Homo sapiens: one gene and its partners. The protein of the gene in region 2 purifies or fractionates together with the protein of the main gene of each other region. This does not show direct contact. Each region holds a gene or a part of one and is shown on either strand. Other genes may lie near its edges.

Region 1 (7,754 bases), on a different chromosome or scaffold from region 2:
TACCTGGCCTGATTCCAATTTTGAATGAAGTTCCACTGTGGGTAAAATGCTATCAAACAGCATCACATGCTACAGAGAAATCTTTTGTGAAAGGAAGAGTTAACTGATGTGGCAAACTTCATTGTTGTTTTAAGAAATTGCCACAGCCACCCCAAGCTTCAGCCACCACCCTGATCAGCCAGCAGCCATCAACATCAAGGCAAAACACTCTGCCAGCAAAAAGATTATGACCGTCTGAAAGCTCAGATGATTGTTAACATTTTTTGGCAACCAAGCACTCTAAAATTGTGTACACTTTTTTTCAGACATAATGGTACTGCACACTTACTTGACGATAGTACGGTGTAAACATACCTTTTAATGCACTGGGAAACAAAATTCATGCGTTTTATTTTATTGCAGTATTTGTTTTATTGCAGTCGTCTAGAACCAAACATGCAGTATCTCTGAGGTATGCCTGTTATCACTTGAAAGTAGACCGTGATAAGCTAAAGATGTACAGTATAAACCCTAATGCAACCACTAAGAAAAAAAGAATTATACCTAATAAAGTCAGAGAAGATAAAATGAAATCATAGAAAATAATCCAAAAGAGTACAGAAAAAGAGGGACAAAGATAGAGATGGGGCAAACAGCAAACAAATAGCAAGATGTTAGATTTAAACCTAACCTGATATATCAATAATCACATTAGATGTAAATGGTCTAAACACTCCGATTAAAAGGCAGAGATTGTCAAAGTGGATTAAAAAGCAAGCCCCAACTATACGCTGTCTATAAAAAATACACTTTAAGGTAAAAAGATGCAAATAGATTAAAAGCACAAGGACAGAAAAAGATATACCATGCCAATACTAATCAAATGAAAGCTGGAATGGCTATTTCAATCAAAATAGATTTCAGAGCAAAGAATATTATGAAATGATTTTATTTATCCCTAGTAATGATAAAGGAATTAATTCATTAAAGGGATGTAACAATCCTAAACATTTATGTACCTAATAAGAGTTTCAAAATACATAAAGCAAAAAGTTACAGAACTATAAAGGAAATAGACAAGTATCCAAAATTACAGTTGGAGACGTCAACATACCTCTTAATAACTGACAGATCAAATAGACAAAAAAAAAAAAACCAATAAGAATATAGAAGACTTGAACAACACTATCAATCAACTTCATCTAATTGACATTTACAGAACACTCGACCCAACAACAGAAAGGCTTATGTATATTCTTGAAGCTTTCAAGTACACACAGAACCTCACCAAGATAGAATATTCTGCACCATGAAAAAGGTCTCAAAAACTTAGTAGGATTCAGGTCATAGAAAGCATATTTTCTGACCATACTGGAATTGAAATAGAAATCAGTAACAGAAAGACATCTGGAAAATCCCCAAATATTTAGGAACTAAATAACATACCTCTAAGTAGTCCATGAATGGGCTATTAAATGGCACATCTCAATAAATCAAAGGGATATTAGTATTTTGAAATGAATGAAAATAAAAATAATCCATCAAAATCTTTGGGATGCAGCTAAAGCAGTACTTAAGGGGAAATTTATAGCACTAAACCCCTATATGAGAAAACAGGAAAGGTCTCAAATCAATGATTGTAGCTTCTCACCTTAAGAAACTAGAAAAAGAGCAAGTCAAATCTGAAGCAAGCAAAATCCAATGAAAATAGAAAAACAGAGAAAAATAAATTCACCAAAAGCTAATTACTTATTAAAAAGAGCAATAAAATTTATAAACCTCTAGCCAAGCTGATCAGGAAAAAAAAGAAGATACAAATGACCAATATCAGGAATGAGAAGGAAAACATCATTACAAATTGTAGAGATCTTAAAGGAATAATAGAATACCATAATTAACTTTATGCCAATAAATCCAACAACTTAGATGAAACAAATTCCTTGAAAGATACAAACTACTAAAGCTCATTTAAAAAAAAAAAAGGAAAATCTGGATTTCCCTATATCTATTAAAGAAATCAGTTATTTAAAATCTTCCTACAGAGAAAACCCTGGGCCTAGAAGGCTTCACTAGAAGGCTTAAATTCTATAAACATTTAAGGAAGATACAATACCAATGCGACACTCACTCTGTTTTAAAAATTGAAGAAAGGGCCAGGTGTATTGGATGAATCCAAGCACTATGGAAGGCTGAGGCAGGTGGATTACTTGCAATCAGAAGTTGGAGACCAGCCTGGCCAACACAGTGAAACTCCCTCTCTACTAAAAAATACAAAAATTAGCTGGGCATGGTGGCACACACCTGTAGTCCCAGCTACTCGGGAGGCTGAGGCATGAGAATCACTTGAACCTGAGAGACGGACATTGCAGTGAGCTGAGATCGCCACCACTGCACTCCAGTCTGGGCAGAGCGAGACTCCATCTTAAGAAAAAAAAAAAATTGAAGAGAAGATAGGTGTGGTGGCTCACACCTGTAATCCCAGCACTTTGGGAGGCTAAGGCAGGCGGATCGCTTGAGGTCGGGAGTTGAGACTAGCCTGGCAACATGGTGAAACCTCAAGTCTACAAAAAATACAAAATAATTAGCTGGCTGTGGTGACGTGTCTGCAATCCTAAATACTCAGGAACTCGGCTGAGGTGGGAGGATGGCTTGAGCCCAGGAGGCAGAGGTTGCAGTGAGCCGAGATCATGCCACTGCACTCCAGCCTGGATGACAAGGCCAGATCCTGTCTCTCAAAAAAAAAAAAAAAATTGAAGAGGGGGAAACACTTTCCAACTTATTCTACAAGGCCAGTATTGCCCTGACAGCAAAACCACAGACATTACAAGAAAAGAAAAATACAGACCAATATTATTCTTGGGCATTGATGTAAAAATTTTAAACACAATTTTAGTAAACTGAATATGTGAAAAGGATAATGAATACATCAGAACAAAGTAAGCTTTATCCTAGAGATGCAAGGTTGGTTTAATATGTGAAAGTCAATATAATTACCATATATCAAACTAAAAAACAAAAAACCACACAATAACCTCAGTAAATGCAGAATTTGACAAAAGCATTTGACAAAATAAAATAACTATTCCTAATTCTTGCCTAATTCCACAAGTATATATTTTTTTGAGATGGAGTCTTGCTCTGTCGCCCAGGCTGGAGTGCAGTGGCGCAATCTCGGCTCACTGCAACCTCCGCCTCCCGGGTTCGAGCGATTCTCCTGCCTCAGCCTCCTGAGTAGTTGGGACTACAAGCGCCTGCCACCATGCCCAGCTAATTCTTTGTATTTTTAGCTAAGACAGGGTTTCACCATGTTGGCCAGGCTGGTCTTGAACTCCTGACCTCAGGTAATCCGCCTGCCTCGGCCTCCCAAAGTGCTGGGATTACACAAGTATATTTTTTAAAGGCACGGTTCCTCTCCTGAAATTTGGCTTCTATTCTATCATTCCACTAAACCTGCCTTTACTATATTCACCAGCGTCTATTTCAAAGATGCAATATAGCATGGCTATTAGGAGAATGGATTCTGAAGCTTGACTACTTGGGTTCAATTCCCACTCTACTCATTATCAGGTATGTGATTTTCACCAGTTTTAACTTCTCCATGCCTCATTTTTCCTATCTGCAAAATGGGGATAATAAAAAGACTTCCCTTATAGGGCCCTATGAAGATTTAAATTGGTTCATACACATTTAAAGCACCTAAAACTTAAAACAGTGCCTGGTATATGGTAAAAAACTATAGAAGGAAGTGCCAGCTATAATTACCACCTCTGGAAAATACCTAGTTCTTAATCTCTGTAGTTCTCAGATGATCTCTCAGTCCATGTTGAGAAGCATTTCAGAAAGTTAAACTGAGTCTCTTTGAGAGTGCATACAGGGTGAAGTAAAGGCAGAGCCTGACACTTGAATCCTGACTCTATCATTTACTAGCCAGGTGCCCCTGGGCACCTTACTTAGCCTCTCTAGACCTCTGTCTTTGAAATCATAAGACTGTTGTGAGGATTGAGTAACAGAATGCTTCTCTTTCCTCAGTCTCCTACCAAAGCCAGACCTGTTTTATTAGAATGCCTTCCAATCAGACTGGTCCCAGGACCAGCTACTCCAGAGACCAAGAGCAAATGCTGGTCCCAGGGGAGGTCAATACTGAAAGGTCAATCTTGTACTCAGCCATGACCGTCCTGGGTATTGTCTTCCCAGAGGGCAGAATTATTTCTCAGGATCAGGAGGGTGGCTTCTTAGGAAACCATGAAAACTCCTGGGATTCTGATGGGAATGGCCTGGGCTCTCTCTAAAGGGCTTATGATCAATCTCCTTTTCTTCCACCCATTAGCTGGTAATATTTCCAAAGGTCAGCCCTGGAATTTCTAATCTTCTCTATTTGGGAGTTAATTACAATTTATAAACATAATGACTGCAAAAGTCTTTATTTTCTTTTTATTATTCTTTCTTAAAAGTATTTTCTACCCTAATATTTCATGAGAACTTTGATTCCTATTAAAATATGAATGTTCACATTTTAATATCCTCTCTAAACTGAAAGCACATCTATCTCCAGGTGTATAGTGTGGCTCCATATGAATTTTTCCCTGAAACTGCTGATGACCTATCCGTATTTCTGAGTTCATCTCTGGCTTCTGGTTCCACCACTCTGACTCACATTTCTATTTTTAGGCTGGTCCCCCAAAACTAGAAGACTGTTCACAGTCTGTTTTCTAGTGTTAGCGGCCACAACCATTCTGCACTGATCAAGGTTATTTACTCCATAATCATCTTTGATAAATCTCTTCTTTGTTCCCCATGTATTGTAGTAGGTTTTAGATACATGTTTCTCCTCTCTGGCTGCTCTAATCCAAACCTTAATCATTATACAGGAAAACAGCGATAACTTTCTTGTTGGCCTCCCCCTTCAGGCCTATTCTACTCATAGCAAGAGAAACTTCTTACTCAGGTGTTACTGTGAACATGGCAACGATTTTTAATTCTACTTAAACCAAACAATTTAAGTCTTGAAGACACTCCCCTACTGACTCTCATCTAGTGGCTTTTATTTTTTGGCACTCTGGATCCAGGCTCACCAACACGGCCAACCGTTGTTTTCCCTCATGACTTGTATAATCCTTAGTCTCAAGGCCCACATGCTCCTAACTATTAAATGATATGGTGCCTAAGAACATGGGTTATTGGGTCAGACTGCCTGGGTTAAATTTCTCATTCCATTACCAATCAGTTGTGAACCTCTGTGTGCCTCAAGTTTTCTCATGCAGAAAGGAAGAACAATGGCAGTACCGACTAGCCTTACAGGGTTTGTTGCAAGGATTAGATAATCTATGCAAAGCACTAAAGACAATGTCAGGCACAGAGTAAACACTCAAAGTATTAGTTACTACTATCTCCTACTATTACTGCTTCCTAACAAAAGACCCAGGGTCTGGTACATAGTAGGTGATCCATAAGTTGAATCAAGGAATAGATACTCATTCTTGCTCCTAAAATTATTGAAACACTAGGGAAAGGCATAGGTTTTAATCTAAAAACTTGACCTACCTTTAAATCTGAGTTGGCTGCAAATTTCTGTCCAATTAAAGCTGCATTTCCTCCTACATAGTGCTGTAAGAGAGTTCAAGGCTTTTAGACAGTATTTTAATACAACTATATCACCCAAGTTTAATCATTTTTTATTTTAAAAATTAATTTATAGTCCATTTCCCAAAAACATTTTGAGGTGATTTTACATCAAAGGACACACAGATGAAGTGAATGCAACACAGAAATAGAAAGTGAGTAATAAGATGAAGAAAATAAATAGGACAACCATGAAAATGAGTCTGATTGCTTTAACTGTTGATCAAATTCAGCTCTGAGCTTACAGACAGCCAGAAGAGACACAGGAAACAGGAAAAGTGTGGACAGGGCTTATCGTCTACATTATAGTCCTTCTAAAATGAAGAAAAATTTCACTATCCTGTGGAAAAATCATTCAGTAGATACTATAATGAACTAAAATCTAACTCTTGAGTGAGGCACATATGGCCTTTATCTAACCCATGTTTTCCTTACTACCTTCATCTCCTGCCCTTCCCTTCCACACCCTGCTTACAGCTCTCCAAGTCAGCCTTCCCCTGTCTCTGTGCCTTTGGCACATGCTGTTTCCTTCCATTAGGACACCCTCCCTTTCTCATATACTAGGTAAAACCCTGATCACTTTCCAAGAATCAGCTGCAGTGTCACCTCTTCTGTAATGCCTTCTCTGTTCCCCTTACACCCCACTGACATCTCAGCCTTCACAACCGCCCTCACCAGATAGGATTACAGATCTCTTCCTACCCCTATAACCTGAACAAACCTCTAATGCAGCTCTTGTCTGCTTGGGCTACTATCATCTGGGTACACAACTAGGTCCTTCGGGGCAGGGACTGTCTTCTTCTGAAGTGTTCAGTAAATGTTTGTTGCTAAATTTTGAGAAACGAAGAAACACACTGATGTGTTGGGAAACATAAAAGTTTTCCTGGGAGTAAATTCTAAAGATAATGGGCCCCTAATATAGGACAGTACTTTCCCTTAAACACCACATCTCTCAGCTGAGGACCTGGAGAACAAATAATTCAAGGTTGGTGTTCCATGTTGCTAAGGATGGATCCATATGCCTTGGAAATCTGACACATAACAGCTAAGGCTGCTGTTCTATTATAAAAGTTGAAAAGCCTGATAGTGTTACCTGGGTGGAATGCTACTATCCCAGCTTCCTAGTCCTCAGCCCACGCAGAGGCATAGACTAAACCAGGGGTGTCCAATCTTTTGGCCGCCCTAGGCCACACTGGAAGAATTGTCTTGGGTCACACATAAAATACACTAACAATAACGACAGCTGATGAGCTATTAAAAAAAAAGGGTGGGGGGGAGGTTAAATCTCATAATGTTTTAAGAAAGTTTATGAATTTGTGTTGGACCACATTCAAAGGCATCCTGGGCTGCAGACTGGACAAGGTTGGAGTAAACAATTCTAGATGGTAGACATCACTCTTATCCCAATTTTGTGCTGACTAACCTCTGAATTCAGGTGGGACAGTAATAGCTTTTTAGAGATAATTTAAAACTTTCTGTGATATGTAGGCTGAAATTTGGCCCTTTAACATGTCAGCCTTAATGTTTTATTCAACCACGATAGTTAGAATTTACTAAAAAAAATCTTGGGAAAATAGTAAGATATCTACAAAGTGGATTTCAGAATTTTCATATAATGTTTATCAACCTGCCTTAAACTATAAGGAAGTATGAAAAGGCACTCCTCTAGTGAAAGGGGTTTTACAATGTTAAGAAATAACCTGGACCATCACAAAGCTAGATCAAGTTGCTGTAAAAATTTTTTTCATCAAGAAATAAAGGCAGAATCAAGAGAGAAGAGAAATCAAACTGGTGGTTTAAATTCCGTAATCATAAAGACTTTTGAGCAGTGAACTCATCATGTTAGAACTATCGAGATTCTCTCATAAGAGATAAGAATCTCACTACTGATCCCAGTTGTCAAAATGATAACTGAAATCTTAACTTGCTGTCACCTTTAGAAACTCAGCTAGGTAATGCCTATGTCCATTTCTAATGTTCAAATAGGCAGCTTCGAAGACAAAAAACTTATTTTTAAAATTTTTTTGAGACAGGGTCACACCCTGTTGCCCAGACTGGAGTGAAGTGGCACGGTCATGGTTCACTGCAGCCTTGACCTCCCGGGCTCAGGTGATCCTCCCACAGGCACATGCCACCATGCCCAGCTAATTTTTTGT
Region 2 (8,224 bases):
CTCTTATCTAAGTGGCCAGCACTTAAATATACATTTATCATATGCCAGGTGCTGTTCTAAATTTTTTTTTTTTTTTTTTTTTGAGATGGAATCTTGCTCTGTCACCAGGCTGGAGTGCAGTGGCACGATCTCAGCTCACTGCAACCTCCGCCTCCCGGGTTCAAGCGATTCTCCTGCCTCAGCCTCCCACGTAGCTGGGACTACAGGCACGTGCCACCACGCCCAGCTAATTTTTGTATTTTTAGTAGAGATGGGGTTTCACCATGTTGGCCAGGATGATCTCGATCTGTTAACCTTGTGATCCGCCCGCCCAGACCTCCCAAATTGCTGGGATTTCAGGCATGAGCCACCACAGCCAGCCTTGTTCTAAATATTTTTTACATATACCAACACAAATAATCCTGACAACGATCTTATAAAATAGGATCTTATAAAATGAGGATATTGAGGCACCAAGCTTCAGTGACTTGGCCACGTTCACACAGCCAGGAAGTGACAGAGCTGAGCTTTGGACCCAGTTGGTCTGATTCCCAGGCCTATGCACTTTGCATTGCGCTAGGCAGATGAGCTGTGGGGCTCGAAAAGGGTGAGCTGGGGTTGGGGCTGGGGCTTACTTGAAGGTTCCCCCGAAGGCCGCGTGCATTCTGGAGACAGAGGCCTGGCAGGAGACATTGGACACTTTCATCCGTCCAGCGGGATCCCGGGAGAGCTCCAGACCAGTGCGGATGGACACACCCTCAGCTGAGGCGTTGATGTAGCCCCCATCATAGCTGCCAGGGGGGTTAATATTCACTCCAGGTAGGAGCTCAATTGAGTCTTCAGTGCCCCCATGCATCACCATACCTCTTAATAAGGTTTCACCTCTTTCCACACATCCTACCAAACCTTCCTATCAACTCGTATGAAATGCATATGCCTGTTTCTGTTACACAGATGAAGAAACGGAAACTCAGGAAGGCTAAGGGGGCTGCCCACAGCCCCACAGCACCTCCAGCCCTCCTGACCCACTCTCCACTCCCCTGAGGGTGCTGGGTCCTTACAAGAACCAGTAGAGCAGCTGTCTCCGGAAGCGCAGCCCCAAGGAGGCATTGGTGATTTGAAGCATCAGCTCCTGCTGTGGCTGGAAATCGAGCTCGGAAGATGTCAGTTGCAGCTCTGTGACCTTCACCCTACAGGAGGCCTCAGGGTCAGATCCAGGGCCAAGAAGAGGGAACTTCCCCCAACGACAGGAAATTTGTCTGCTCCCCTTTCAAGTCCAGGCCTGGGGAAGCGGGAGTGGGTGGAATGAATTCTTCCATTGTCCCTCAAGTGCCCAACTTAGACTTGGGTGGCTCAAAGTTGAACTTGGGTGGCTGAGAGAGGAGGTCTTCCTGATCCAGGTGTTAAAAATGAGCTTCACCCCATCGCTTAAAAGTCTTGTTTGTTTGTTTGCCAGGTGCGGTGGTGGCTCATGCCTGTAATCCCAGCACTTTAGGAGGCCGAGGAGGGCGGATCACTTGAGGTCAGGAGTTCGAGACCAGTCTGGCCAACATAGTGAAACCCGTCTCTACCAAAAATACAAAACTTAGCAGACCGTGGTGGCACGCGCCTGTAGTCCTAGCTACTCGGGAGGCTGAGGCAGGAAAATCGCTTGAACTCGGGATGCGGAGGTTGCAGTGAGCCAAGATCGCGCCACTGCACTCTAGCCTGGGCAACAGAACAAGACTCCCTCTCAGAAAAAAAAAAAAAAAAAGTCTTGTTTGCTTGCACCCCCTCCCCTCCCACACCCTGGGGTTGCTACACCCGGTCTTTTAATAGAGTCCGTTCACTTTGCCTCCATCACCTAAGCTCCGTCTCACATCTCAATTCCTTATTCCCCCTCCCTCATCCTAAACCATACTTAGAGCCTTCAGTTTCTCCACCCCTCCGATTAACTCCACCCCGTGCCCGAGACTCCACTCTCATCTATTGGGAAGTTCCTTGACTCCACCTTTCTGTTGTTCTTCGACCACGCCTCACATCCACTGGTCCTGCTTCCTTCTTGGCCCCCTCTACATTTTCAAGGCCACGCCCATCTGCCTGGTCCCGCCTATGATGACTGGCTTGGCCTTTATCTTTTCGGCCCCATCCGGTTTCTTAAGTCTTGCCTCATCGATTTGGCCACGCCCCATCCCACTCAGCCTCCAGTCTCCCGAGACCCTGAGATTTCTCGGGCCCCGCCTCCACCGCCGAGGCCCCGCCCCGGATCGCGAGGCCCCGCCCCCCACTTACTCAGAGATGTTGTAGTAGAAGTGGCCTTCTTTGCCCCGCAGGTCCGGAATGGTGATAGTCTCCAGCTCTTGCTCCAGAAAGCGCAGCCCCTCCTGCTTCACTGAAGCAGCAGAGAAACCCTTACTTAGCTCCCGTGCCCACTGTTGGGGCGACCCCAACCCCGTCCGCTCCCGTCCGTCCCTGTCTGCCCCTGCGCCTTACCCAGCTCCAGCGCCTTGGAGGTGACGCGGATCTTGCAGCCTGGGAACTCTGCATGTGCGCCTGCCAGCAGCGCTAGGAAGAGGGCCCCGAAGAGGGCCATGGCGAGCGGGCCTGGGGGTGGGGTGGGGTCGCAGGAGTTATCTGAGCCGCTTAAACCCATTCCTTGGACGTCCAACCATAAGTGGGAACTAGCCTGGATCGTTACCCTCCAGATAACTCTTCGGGGAACTTGGAACCAATAATCTTGCCTCCATATGGCAGATGTGGAAACTGAGGCTCAGAGAGGCGATGCGACTTGCGTTCTGGCTCCCAGAGGATTTGGGACACGGGGGAGGGGACGTTCCCAGTTCCCTCGTGCTACCGCCGCGTGATGAGTTTGGACCTCCAGGGGACCAGCCCCCACACCCCCAACAACCTCCCCTTTCCTTTAGCGGTGGGCCCATGCAGGCTTGCACGTTGCCACGGCAACGACTGCACGCGCATTCTTGGAGGGTGGCTTGCGGTCTCCTAGGCCTCGCGCCCGGGGAGGAGAGGAGGTGGCCGACCAGACCGTGGGCTCCCGGGTCTCCCGGCTCCCTCAGGTCCTAAATCTCTCCCATTAGAGATTCTGCCTGGAGCCCCCATGTTAGCGTTCTCCTTCATCGGCTCTCCTCCCCACGCCGGCTTCAGTGCACCACGCGGCTCGGCGAGGGACTGGGAACGGGATAGGGACGCGCCCCAACTCACTCAGCGGTGGAGCTGGGGGGCGGCGCGGTCACGTGGGATGGCGGGCAGCTCAGGGGATCCGGGCGACGGGGTCTGGCGGGCAGGGTTGTTCCAGCCGCCTTTATAAAGCCGGCCTCCCCGACCCCTCCTCCTCTCTGCAGCTCTCCCCTCCTCCCTTGGGGGCTGGGAGGGGACGGGGCGGGACGCTGGCAGCCGGGAGAGTGGAAAAGGCTGCACAGAGCCCCGTGACAAGCCCGGCCGCTGTCTGGACAAGTGGGAGACCCAAGCCCAGGGAGAGGGAAGGAAATGCAGGAGCCGGCCCACTCAGCCCCAACAATCCCACTTTGCTGGGACCTTGGTTCAAATTACAATTATCCATGTCTTCCTGCATGATCTTGGGCAAGTCACTTCACTTGGGTCACTGACCCTCAGTTTCTTCCTTCAGCGAAATGTGCACGATGATAGGAACTACCTCTTGGGCCTTTATTACAACCAGGTCCAGGCACAAAGTCAAGGAATATTTTTTCTTTCCCTGCCACCCACAATCATCTCGGGACCTCCTTGCCTGGCTTTGCTATGGGCCCCCCTACCTGTCTCTGTGTCACCACCTGGGGACCTTAAGGTCCCAGAGACCTTTCCCACTTGGGAAAGCAAGACTAGACAAGTGCTGTCAGCCCAGGAACATACCACACCGGCTGAAATCAGAAGGAGGTCTGCCATTTATCGTGGCTGGTGGATTGTTTTTTCTATTTTTTTTATTTTTATTTTTTGAGACGGAGTCTCGCTCTGTCCCCCAGGCTGGAGTGCAGTGGCGCGATCTCGGCTCCCTGCAAGCCCCGCCTCCCGGGTTCACGCCATTCTCCTGCCTCAGCCTCCCCAGCAGCTGGGGCTACAGGCGCACGCTGCCACGCCCGGCTAATTTTTTTTGTATTTTTAGTAGAGACGGGGTTTCACCGTGTTAGCCAGGATGGTCTCGATCTCCTGACCTTGTGATCCGCCCGCCTCGGCCTCCCAAAGTGCTGGGATTAAAGGCATGAGCCACCGCGCCCGGTCCACTGGTGGATTTTTTAATGAACCCTTGGAGCAAGGTGCTCTGAACAGCATCCCCGCCCCCACCCCCACCCCCACCTCCATCTACTGCTTACAGGGTTCCCGGACCCTAGGACAGGGCACAGAGTGGGTGCTTGCCACCTTTTTGTTGCCAAATGGACGAAAGAAAGGGGAAGCAATAATCATGTCTGCTGAGCATGTATTTAGCACCAAACACTCATCTAGGAAGGATGACTAACTCATCCTGATTTGCCTAGGACTTTCCCCATTGTGTCTTTTTTTTCTGATATAATCCACAGATTCACAAAAATAGTTCCATTTCCTTTTTTATTTAATTAATTAATTAATTTTTTTGAGACACAGTCGTGCTCTGTCACCAGGCTGCAGTGCGGTGGTGTGATCTTGGCTCACTGCAACCTCTGCCTCCTGGGTTCAAGTGATTCTCCTGCCTCAGCCTCCCAAGTAGCTGGGACTACAGCCATGTGCCACCACACCTGGCTAATTTTTGTATTTTTAGTGGAGACAGGGTTTTGCCATTTTGGCCAGGCTGGTCTTGAACTCCTGCCCTCAAGTGATCCGCCTGCCTTAGCCTCCCAAAGTGCTGGGATTACAGGTGTGACCCACCATGCCCAGCCTATTTATTTATTTTTATTTATTTATTTAAGATGGAGTTTCTCTCTTGTTGCCCAGGCTGGAGTGCAATGGCGCAATCTCGGCTCACTGCAACCTCCGCCTACCAGGTTCAAGCAATTCTCCTACCTCAGCCTCCCAAGTAGCTGGGATTACAGGCACCCACCACTACGCTCAGCTAATTTTTTGTATTTTTAGTAGAGATATGGTTTCGCTATGTTGGCCAGGCTGGTTTCGAACGCCTGACCTCAGGCAATCCACCTGCCTTGGCCTCCCAAAGTGCTGGGATTACAGGCGTGAGCCACCGCGCCCGGCCGCCTATTTATATTTTTAGAGACAGGGTCTTGCTCTGTTGCCCAGGCTGGAGTGCAGTGGTACAATCACGGCTCACTGAAGCCTCCACCTCTTGGGCTCAAGCGATCTTCCCACCTCAGCCTCCTGAGTAGCTAGGACTACAGGCAGGTGGTACCATGTCATGTCCAGCTAAGTTTTGTATTTTTTGTAGAGACAGGTCTCACCATGTTGCCCAGGCTGATCTTGAACTCCTGGACCCAAGTGATCCTCTTGCCTTGGGCTCCCAAAGTGCTGGGATTACAGGCGTGAGCCACACATCCAGCCATCCCCATTTTGAAACCATTCCTGGGAACCCACTCAGTCCCTGGGAAACCTTACAACTGGTCATCCGAATTCTAGGTAATTTATTTAACCTTAACAACCTGTCAGACTGGCACTATTATGAACCCTCTTTAACAGGAAGTAGAGGTTGAAGCAATTCTGTGGCTGCTATTAGGGAATCCGTAGACTGTTCATGGAAGAGTGGAAGGTGGGCTTTATAGCCCGGTAGTTATGTACTTAGACTCTTGTGTCTGACAGACAAGAGTTTACACCCCAGGTTGTCAGTTCTTAGGTGTATGACATTGATCCCTTGCTTAAGCACTCAGATCTTCAATTTCCTCATCCTAAAATGGAAACAATAATTTAAGGTTATTGCAAGAATAAATGGGCCTGGTACATGACACATCATTAGTGCCAAATAAATGCTAGCTATCTTAATTAGGGGCACATACCACGAGCAAACAAAGCAGAAAAGGTGTAGAGGGAGAACAGAGAAAGTGTTAAGAGTATCCAGAGGAGGAAGTATCTGTGTTCCTTTGAACTCTAGTAACCTTCCTAGAGCCTGGCTCAAGCAGAAAACCTGGTGGATGTTAGTTTTCTTTCCTCTTATTTCCTTTCTTTTCTTTTTTTTTTTTTGTGGGGTGGAGTCTCGCTCTGTCACCCAGGCTGGAGTGCAGTGGCACGATCTCGGCTCACTGCAACCTCCACCTCCCAGGTTCAAGTGATTCTCTTGCCTCAGCCTCCCGAGTAGCTGGGACTAGAGGCGCCTGCCACCATGCCCAGCTAATTTTTGTATTTTTAGAGACAGGGTTTCACCGTGTTGGCCAGGTTGGTCTCGAACTTCTGACCTCAGGTGATCCGCCCGCCTTGGCCTCCCGAAGTGCTGGGATTACAGGCATGAGCCAGTGCACCTGGCCCTTTTTTATTTTTTTTTAACAACAACAACAAAATACATTTTATTTATTTAAGATAGGGTCTCACCATGTGCTCAGGCTGATCTCCAACTCTCGGGCTCAAGCAATCCTCCCACCTCAGCCCCCCAAGTAGCTGGGACTACAGGTGTGCACCACCATACCTGGCTGTTTTCTCTTCTTTTCTTTCTTTTTTTCCCTCTTTTTTGAGAGAGGGTCTCATTCTGTTGCCCAGACTGCTGTGCAGTGGTGCAGTTACGGCTCACTGCAGCCTCAACCTCCCCAGGCTCAGGTGATCCTCCCACCTCAGCCTCCTGAGTAGCTGAGACTACAGGTATGTGCCACCATACCCAGCTAATTTTTGTATTTTTCACAGAGATGAGGTTTCACCATGTTGCCCAGGCTGGTCTTGAACTCCTGAGCTCAAGAGATCTACCCACCTCAGCCTCCCGAAGTGCTGGTGTTACACCACATCTGGCCTTTCCTCTCGTTTTCTTTTTCTTTTTTTCTTTTTTTTTTTTTTTTTTGAGACAGAGTCTTACTCTGTCACCCAGGCTGGAGTGCAGTGGTGCTGTCTCGGCTCACTGCAACCTCCACCTCCCGGGTTCTAAGCGATTCTCCCGCCTCAGCCTCCAGAGTAGCTAGGATTACAGGCACACACCACCACAGCTGACTAATTTTGTATTTTTAGTAGAGATGGGGTTTCACCACGTTGGCCAGGCTGGTCTCGAACTCCTGAGCTACCAAAGTGCTGGGATTACAGGCGTGAGCCAGTGTGCCCAGCCTTGCTCTCATTTTCTTAGGTGAAATATTTCTCGCTATATTGCCCTTGCTGGTCTCAATCTCTTGGCCTCAAAAGATCCTCCGATCTTGGCTTCCCAAAATACTGGTATTACAGGCGTAAGCCACTGTGCCTGGCCTCACTCTTCCTGGCTTTGAAGACTGAAGGAGAGGCTTCCCAGCAATCAAAGGGATGGGAAAGAAATGCTTTTCTAGCCTCAGTTGTGTACCCAGATGAATCCAGGCTTCATCTTTGTATCATTTTTATCTCTTAAATGGTCTTGTCCCATGCAATTCACTGGCCAGTGGCCTAACCCCTCTGGATCTCAGTTTCCTCATCTGTAAGATGAGGATGATCCAGGTACCTCCCTCTTAGGATTGCTTGTGAGGATTAAATGAGTTAATGCATTGAAAGGGTTTAATAAGTACTTGGCATTTCCTAAGGGCTCAAAAAATGTTACCTACAATCATTAGCATGATCAGCCATCAGTGGCTTTTCACCATACTGGAATAGACTCCTGCCTCAGTACCCTGATTCCCTGGCATGTGATAGGGCCTACTCTCTCTGTCTCACCTCTCACCTCTCTTGCCCTTTGCATTCGGCTCCAGCCAAACTGGTTTTTCTGTTCCTTGAATGTGCAAGTTCTTCTTGCTCAGAGCCTTTGCATTTGCTGTTCCCTCTACCTGGAATGCTTTTCCACCTGATCTTCCTTGTCATTTTGTCTCAGCTTATTTTATTTATTTATTTTTTGAGACGGAGCTTCGCTCTGTCACCCAGGCTGGAGTGCAGTGGTATGATCTCGGCTCACTGTAAACTCTACCTCCAGAGTACAAGCAATTCTCCTACTTCAGTCTTCTGAGTAGCTGGGATTACAGGCGTGCACCACCACGCCCAGCTAATTTTGTATTTTTAGTAGTGATGGGGTTTCACATGTTGGCCAGGCTGGTCTCGAACTCCTGACCTCAAGTGATCTGTCCGCCTCAGCCTCCCAAAGTGCTGGGATTACAGGCTCGAGCCACCACGCCCAGCATTTTGTCTCAGTTTAAATGGCGTTTTTTCAGAGAGGCCTTCCCTGCCTGCC
Region 3 (7,887 bases), on a different chromosome or scaffold from region 2:
GGAAGGCACCCACTCCTCAGGACCCTGACTCCAGGAAGCATGCTCCCTGTGAGGGCAGGTGCTTAAAGGCATCTATTCAGAAGCTGCTCTCAACCTCCAGCCCTTGTGAACAGGCAAATAGGTGAAGATAACACAAAACAGGAACTGGTCCCCAAATCATAGGCAATTTGGCTTTGGAATGCATTCCAAGGCACATTTGCTGTACACTTGTATGCACATTCATCCAAACTCAAATGCTAAACTCTACCAGCTGCCTCTGGACTACATAAAAACCCCAAACCTTTATCTCTTCATTAACGATGGCAAATATTTTCTGGCTTTACCTTTCTTCCCCACTTTAACATCCTGCTTCTATTCTGTGGCCTGCGCTTCCTGCTTTGTATATTTTAGATTACTTTAGACATGACCTCACATCCTGGCCAATTGCACAGTAGCTGCTAATTGCTAGAGCTCTGCTAATGGCCCGTACATCGATGAAGAATGAGTTACAAGCAGCAAAATCCAGAAGACAATAAGCTAGTGTGGTTTAGAGCTGGGGCTCTGGAGGGAGACAGATTTGGGTTTCAATCTCAGACTGTATGGCCTGGGGCAACTAACTTAACCTCTCTGAGTCTCTGTTATCTCATCTAAATGGAGATTATAGTAGCTCCTACCTCAGAGGGCTGTTGCTAAGATAAATACTGGATAATGCCTATAAACGATTTAGCACAATGTATAGCACAATGTAAGCTATCGTTATTACCATGTAGGCTTTCAAATTATGAAAGACCTTTCCTCCTCTAGAGTCTACATATTCCTGGGATCCTGCCCAGCTATTCTGCTCCATCTCTACCCTGCACCTGCCCAGCCCCATCCCCCTGACCAACCACTTCCTCCAGGTAGCATTCCTTGATTGAGCAAAATGCACACAATTATACATTTGCGTTTTCTCTCTATTGTTTTATGTTTTTCAAGTGTTTCATATGGATATTTACATTTTCCCCAATTCTCACACCAAGCTTCTCCAAGATCAAGAAGCCTTGCCTTCAGTAGTATCTTGGGTAGTGTAGACCCAAGAGCAACATCCCTAGTAAACGGCTAGATCTTCAGAACAAAATGTGGAGACTACCTTTTAAGTCGGCCTTTTGTGTCCTTTGCAAAATGGCTCTCTTGTTTATCAAAGTCTGTCTTGTACAGTAAGCGTATCAGAAGTCCATCTGAAGGAAGCATACAAAGGCAGGAAGCACTGACATTTCCCCCCACCATGAGGTCCCCAAATCCATTCCTTCCCCATCTGCCAAGACATTCATCCATGCTCTAGTTATTTTCCACATCACAGTATTTTCTAAAATTACTCTTTCCGGAGCCCTTCCTCACTCCTTCACTATCTCACTTGAGTCTATCCATGGCATCATTTTTCCCTCTGTTCTCTTAATCCCCCTTGGTGTACACAGAACTTTCACAGGAATACTTGCTCCATCATTATCTGTCTCTGTTTCCAGAGTCCACTTAGGCCCTTAGGCTTTGCTCTCCTGACTCTGACTTCCTGAACTGTCCAGAAGTAGTCCCCCTCCTTGCCAGGTCTTGAGATGTCCACGTGGAACTTTTCGGCCCGGCCCATTTGTATATGAATGTTTCACGCAACACTCTACTACATCACTTCTGCTTCTGTGGGTAGCCAGCAGGGCCCTGTGTACAGGGATCATCTGTTTAAACTGAAATCTTGTCATTTGTTATGGCAGTTTTATTTATGAGCCTGTGTGTTGTAACCTTGTGGCATAAATATTAAATAATAATATCTCTTGGGCAAAAAAATATCATTCATGTTAACTGACAACTTCTTATGAAAATATGAAGTAAGCCCAACCACACAATTTGATATTGGCTAATTCTGAAATATGAGTAAAAGCACGGATTGCTCAACAGGTAGATGCACAGGCAGAATTATAATTTGCATTTTTACACCTTCTTGCTTCAAGAAATGAAACATTCAAGAAGTAAAAAACGTTAAAAGAAACGGGCTGAGTGGCAAATTTCTTCAGAATCAAATTCTAATTTCTGCCAGTATCTCCTAAGCAGTTTTTAGCTTCCAAAAAGAAAGACTCCAAATAATGACAATGCCACATAAGTGAAATGAATTCTGGACAATGACACTGCTCTTTTTTTTTTTTTTTTTGGCATTCTGTGAATTTCCTATTACATCAGTTTCATGATTCAGCATTTTCCATTTCATTTATTTACAGTAATATATGGCGAGATAACCCAAGGTTTCTGCAGGATTGTGGAACATAAGTTACTCTGGGCAGGAAGGGTGTCGCCTTCTGTAAATTTACTATTGTTTAGGAGAACTCAAAACAGAAGCAAGCAAGCCCTCAAAGGAACTGAGAAAATTTCTCCCCACTTTGTTCTGAGGGGTCTCAGCTACTCTGGTATTTAAAATAAATGGGTTTTGAAAAATAGGTTACTGCCCTTTAGTTGATGACTAAAACAGAAGCCAAGAAGTGTGCAAATTGCAAACTGACATGCATGAGCCAAACATATTCTCTGAAATGACAATGTTCAAGACGCAGCTAAAGTCACCACTCTGGCGGTAAGCGTGTTACAGAGAACTAGATTTCTTTCCGGCATCCGCAACTTGGCTGGAGTGACCAAGGAGGAGTTGAAGAGCGCTGGAGATGCGAGGTGCGTTGGCAGAAAACTGTCCGGGCCGGGAGGACCCGGTGGAAACTAAAAGGAGGGTCGACGCGGGTGGCGGGCGCCGAGAGTAAGAGGCGAAGTTGGGCACGGGAAGGAAAGGAGCTGCGAGAAGATTGAGAGGGAAGCCCAGGAGGGGTGGGGGGTTGGGGGGTGCTGGAGACTGCGCGCGGCGGGGCGGGGAGCGAACTCCGGGCGGCGAGGCTCCCGGGTGGAGTCGAGGACAAGAAGGGGTCTCGAGGGTAACCCGACCCGGGTCTAGAGAGAGTCCAGGAGGGAAAGGAATGAGCACGAGCGAGAGAGCAGCTTGGCAAGTCCGGTCCAAGCGCCCCTCTCCACGCCCGGGGTACCTATCCCAGGTGCCGGGAACGCCCGGGGCGCAGCGACGAGGAAGAGAGAAAACTAGCAGCGGCGTCCCCGCCCCGCGTGGCGGGTGTCCCCGGCCGCCCCCACCCGCGTCCCCGGGGCCCCGCGCGGAGGGGAAGACCCGGGCAGGGTCCGGCGCTCACCAGGTAGCAGAGCAGGAGCAGCGCGCAGGCAGAGCGGCCGCCGAGGCCCTGGGGGACGCCGCCACTCGGGACCATGGCTGCGGCCCGGGGGCCGACCGCGAGCGGCGGGGGTTGCTGCTGCTGCTGCCGCGGCCACCCGAGCCCCGCGCCGCGCCGCTGCATGGCGAGGCCGCCCGGATCCGGGCCGGAACAGGTCACCTGGTGCAGGGACCGGCCCCCGCCCGAGGCGCCACCTTCCCGCCCGCCCCCGGCCGGGCCGGCCGCCGCGCGCGGGGCCACCTGCCGCCACCTCCGGACCCGCCGCCGCCGCCACTGCCGCTCCCGCCGTCGCCGCCCCCGCAGCCCCAGCCGAGCGCCGGCTCCTCCCCGCCTCCCCGTCCCCGTCCCCTCCCTCCCCTCTGCCTCCCTGCCCAGCCCTCCTCCCGGCCGCTCCCTCTGGCCCCCGGGCTTCCACCCCTCGGAGCAGCGGGCGCCCACGCAGGTGGGCACCGACCCGGGTCCCGCCCCTTGGCCGCCGCCACCCCCCGCCCGGGTCGCTGGGCCCCGGCGCACCCCCCTTTCCCTTTCTCTCTGCTCCTCCCCCGCCCCCCTTCCGCGCTCCTGCTCTCTGCGATCCCCCTCCTCTCCCTCCGGCTCCCTCTTCCTTCTCCCCTCGCGCTCCCAAACCCCCTCTCTTTTTCACTTTCTCCTTTTCCTCCCTTTCCTCTTTCTCCCTTCCCATCCTCTTCCTCGCTTCCGCATTCTTCCTCTCCCACCCACCCCTTTTGCGGGTCGCACAGACCAGTTCCCGCCCGTGCAATGGGTTTTTGTCTGGTTGCTTTTTTGGCCGGGGCGCCATTCCCGCAGGGCGCAGGGCGAGTGTGCCCCCTGGAGTTGTGCCGCGCAGCTGCCCGGCTCCCAGGCCTTCAGGATGGATTTTGACCCCTGCCAACCTCCACCTGTCCACCTGCGGGGTTGGGACTGCCTCCTTGCTGGCATGTTTGCAGCCGGGCTGCGCCCCACCCTGCCGGCTGGTTCGCGGCACGTTCTGGATGTTTCCCGAGGGTTTTGTGTGGTGCCGCCGCCACCGCCACCACTGCGCTCTTTGTTTTAATTGTCCAGAGTATTGGCACCCAGGACGGGTTTGTATTTGATTTGCATCCCTGTGCTCCGGCTTCCACTTTGGACTGAGAAAAAAATGAATTAATTAGGTCAATACAGTAATACTGGAGCCCCAAATGAAAGGGGTGAGGCCCTGGAAGTGCGCAAACAGCTTTTTAAAAAACCAGGACACATCCTCGGCCTTGGGGACGCAGGTTGAGACTGGCTGCTCTCCGACCCGGGTTCTGCGGCCTGGCGGGGAGGGGCCTCCGGCCGGCGGGACCACCAGCTCGCCGCCGGCCTTGGCTTTCAGGGAAGCGCTTGGCTGTGTCTAGCGGCTCCGACAACTATCTGGGCCCGCAGCTGCTGCTCTGAAACAGTTAATCCACCTTCCAAAGTTCGCAGAAGCTTCCCTTTAGCACTGGTAGATTTGTGCGGATTGGAACTAATAATAGCCTGGGAGCCTGAGAGGCCACAGCCCTTTCCCTGTGCCACGAGCATAGGTCAAGTCACAACAGACGTCGGGGAGAGGCTGGTGGTGAGACGGGGTGCCCGGGATGGTTTGACGGGCGTGGACGCGCCCTCAGCTGCTTCAGTACAGGCCTGGCCACACCAGGCATGGTGGCTCCTCAGCTGTCGTCCACTTTTTTTTAGGTCACCTAAGAGCTGTGGCCTTGTGTGAGTTCCCTGGCCTTATTCCACCGGTTCTCAAACTTCAGAATTACCTGGAGGGATTGTTAAAACACAGATTCCTGGACTTCAGCCCTAGAATTTCTGACTCAGTTGGTCCTGGGAGGGACTTGAGAATGTACCTTTCTAACAAGCTCCTGGGTGATGTTAACGCGCTGGTTCAAACAGCCCTCCTCCATTTCCAGAACTATTGGCTTTTAGGGAACTGGGCTCCTGCTCCTCCCAGCCAGCTGCCACCACATTAAAGCATTTTGGGGGTTTTGACAGATGCTCCCACTATCTCTGTTCCACTTCTGCAGAAACAAAGCACTTAACATTCTTCTGTGTGACGTGGAAAACATTTATTCTATCGAGTGTCCAAGGGAACAAAAGATTTGGTGGCTTTGTCCCAGATCCTGTCTATATCTTTTCCATCAGGTCAAAATACAGACTATGCTTTTAATGTATATGGAAGGAAAATTGTCGGCCAGTTCAGGGGGAAGGGGCTTCAACAGGCATTGCAGCATTTCTAGGGTTGCCACCTGTCTTCCTGGGCCACGCTCCGGAGTTTCTCTCCTCCCACATTGTACACAGATTCTGTTGGTCTTCGGGGAGCTAAATGGTTCCTCGGGGTTGTTTGTAATCAGGATTCATGGAATTGGGAGTTTTCAAGGCCTTGTGAGCTTTGAGGATTTGGGTTTACCTAAGTGTAGGTAAGCAGAGTGCCCCACTGGAGGCTGGACTGTTTCTAACTTGCCATATCCAACTGCTCACTTCTCCCCTACTCACTCATCTCCTATTGTGTTCCTACTGTGGACTGGGCACCACCTGAGGCCCCAGGATTCCAGAGGTAGGCAGGAAGGCTCTGTTTCTGCAAGGAGCACCAGGCATGCAGAAAACCGGCCAGAGTTTGGTCTTCTAAGAGGGATGTGTGAGTTGCTCTCTCATCCTGAGCTAGAGGTGGTGGGATTAACTGCTTCATCCTGTGTTGGAGAGGGGGAGAGAAAAAGTCAAGATTTCTTTTCACGGGGGAGTGGGACGTTTTGATCCAGAAGACAGAATCAGCTCTTACTTTTGCGTCTCTCCAGCAGTTTGTGTCAGTCATTGAAAGGGCGTGGTCTGATTTCAGAAGAAAGCCCTTTATTTAAAAAGAAATATATCTTCCCATTGTCCCATGGAAGGGCTTGAAATCTCACCATTACAATTCATCAGTTTAAATTAAGTTTTAATACTCCACTAAAAGTCGAAGGCCCCAGGGGGAGATTGGCCTCCCTTATTACTGCCTTGGTGTGAGTCAGTTTATCACATGCCCTTGGAAAGGGACCAATTCCACACCTCAACACGGGAAAGGACAAAGGCACAGAGTCCTGAGCTCATCATGGCCCGCCCCTAGGAGGAGACTTCAGAGGCCTGGAGGGAGGGGCTGGAGAAAGGACTGCATCTGCATGCCTAGGTGGCACATCATAGCATTCCAGGTGAGATGTTCTGAGACTCTGAAATTTTTTTTCTTTTTTTTTTCTTTTTGAGACGGAGTCTCACTGTGTTGCCCAGGCTGGAGTGCAGTGGCGTGATCTCAGCTTACTGCAACCTCCACCCCCTGGGTTTAAGCTATTCTCCTGCCTCAAGCCTCTAGAGTAGCTGGGATTACAGGCACCTGCCACCATGCCCAGCTAATTTTTGTATTTTTAGTAGAGATGGGGGTTTCACCATGTTGGCCAGGTTGGTCTTGAACTCCTGACCTCGTGATCCACCCACCTAGGCGTCCCAAAGTGCTGGGATTACAGGCGTGAGCCACCATGCCTGGCCCAAAATGGTTTAAGATCAGTCACGTCTCGGGGACCAATGCACTTGGTCAACTATTACTTTACCAAGCAAAAATAGTTTTTATAAACCAACTGCATATACTATCTTCTGTCAGTATCATTTCATTAAAAAGACAAGGCCTTTTGCCATCAAAAAATTAGGAAGGGCCTAACATCCTAAGAAAAGACTGGTTTGGGTGCCATGGCTCATACTTGTAATCTCAGCACTTTGGGAGGCCAACACGGGTGGATCACTTGAGCCCAGAAGTTTGTGACCAGCTGGGCAACATGGTGAAACCCTGTCTCTACTAAAAATACAAAAATTAGTCAGGTGTGGTGGTGTGTGCCTGCAGTCCCAGCTACTCAGGAAGCTGAGATGGGAGGATCGCTTGAGCTCAGGAGGTCAAGGCTGTACTGAGGTCTAATCACACCACTGCACTCCAGCCTGGGCGACAGAGTGAGACCTTGTCTTAAAAAAAAAAAAAACAAAAAACAAGCTGTTCTTTAATCTGAATATTTTATTTCCGTCTTGTCTTTATATGTTGCATTTTGCTGTGGATCAGTAAAAACTTACCTTTGGAGTGGCCCTGTCCATGTCGGCAGTTGGTAACCACATTTCTATATACTAAGGATGTCTGGGGCAAAGAGATCTGCCCCTGCGGAGACAAATGACCTCCAGATTACAGGAGGTGGGTAGGAAGGCATTCTGCAGGAGTAGAGAGTGTTCCTTCCATCCACTTACCCTCCCACATAAATCTTTGAGGCCGAGGCAAATGCTGCCAGTTTTAGGGAATCTTCCCTCATGGCCTCAGGTCGAAACGCAATGGGTCGGTTCTCTGTGCCCCCAGCAGGCATTGCCTGTAATCCTAAGTGGCCACTGGCTAACTCTGCCTTATATTGGGTATGTTAGTTGGCCTGTTCTCCTCCAGTAGACTATATGCCCCCCGAAAGCAGGGGTTATTTCTTAACCGTTTCTCTGTACCCCCATGCCTTGTACATAGAACATTTCTGACATATTCACTGAATAAAGTTGAATCCAACATCTTCCTTTTTCATTTTTTCCTCTCCATCTTTCTTCCTCCCTCCCTTCCTTCTTTTCTTTTTTTATTCATTGTTGTCTCCCCAGTCTCTTCCTGTTAGAACATGGTTATTTC

Evidence for each region. The genes of interacting proteins can lie anywhere in the genome.
Region 1: the proteins of PLTP (region 2) and ADPGK purify together in Homo sapiens (affinity purification with mass spectrometry; 4 studies listed by BioGRID and IntAct, with this or other methods). This does not show direct contact.
Region 3: the proteins of PLTP (region 2) and SEL1L3 purify together in Homo sapiens (affinity purification with mass spectrometry; 4 studies listed by BioGRID and IntAct, with this or other methods). This does not show direct contact.

The regions. Positions count from the first base shown.
Region 1 is NC_000015.10:72,766,263-72,774,016, forward strand, and holds part of ADPGK (ADP-dependent glucokinase isoform 4 precursor), read right to left. Parts: intron 5,584-7,754; coding exon 5,521-5,583; intron 1-5,520. UniProt on the Homo sapiens protein: Catalyzes the phosphorylation of D-glucose to D-glucose 6-phosphate using ADP as the phosphate donor. GDP and CDP can replace ADP, but with reduced efficiency.
Region 2 is NC_000020.11:45,908,902-45,917,125, forward strand, and holds the start of PLTP (phospholipid transfer protein isoform a precursor), read right to left. Parts: upstream 3,255-8,224; 5' UTR 3,178-3,254; intron 2,563-3,177; 5' UTR 2,552-2,562; coding exon 2,452-2,551; intron 2,351-2,451; coding exon 2,251-2,350; intron 2,094-2,250; exon of another isoform or gene 1,970-2,093; intron 1,170-1,969; coding exon 1,041-1,169; intron 771-1,040; coding exon 615-770; intron 1-614. UniProt on the Homo sapiens protein: Mediates the transfer of phospholipids and free cholesterol from triglyceride-rich lipoproteins (low density lipoproteins or LDL and very low density lipoproteins or VLDL) into high-density lipoproteins (HDL) as well as the exchange of phospholipids between triglyceride-rich lipoproteins themselves.
Region 3 is NC_000004.12:25,859,493-25,867,379, forward strand, and holds the start of SEL1L3 (protein sel-1 homolog 3), read right to left. Parts: upstream 3,497-7,887; 5' UTR 3,345-3,496; coding exon 3,183-3,344; intron 2,662-3,182; exon of another isoform or gene 1,635-2,661; intron 1-1,634.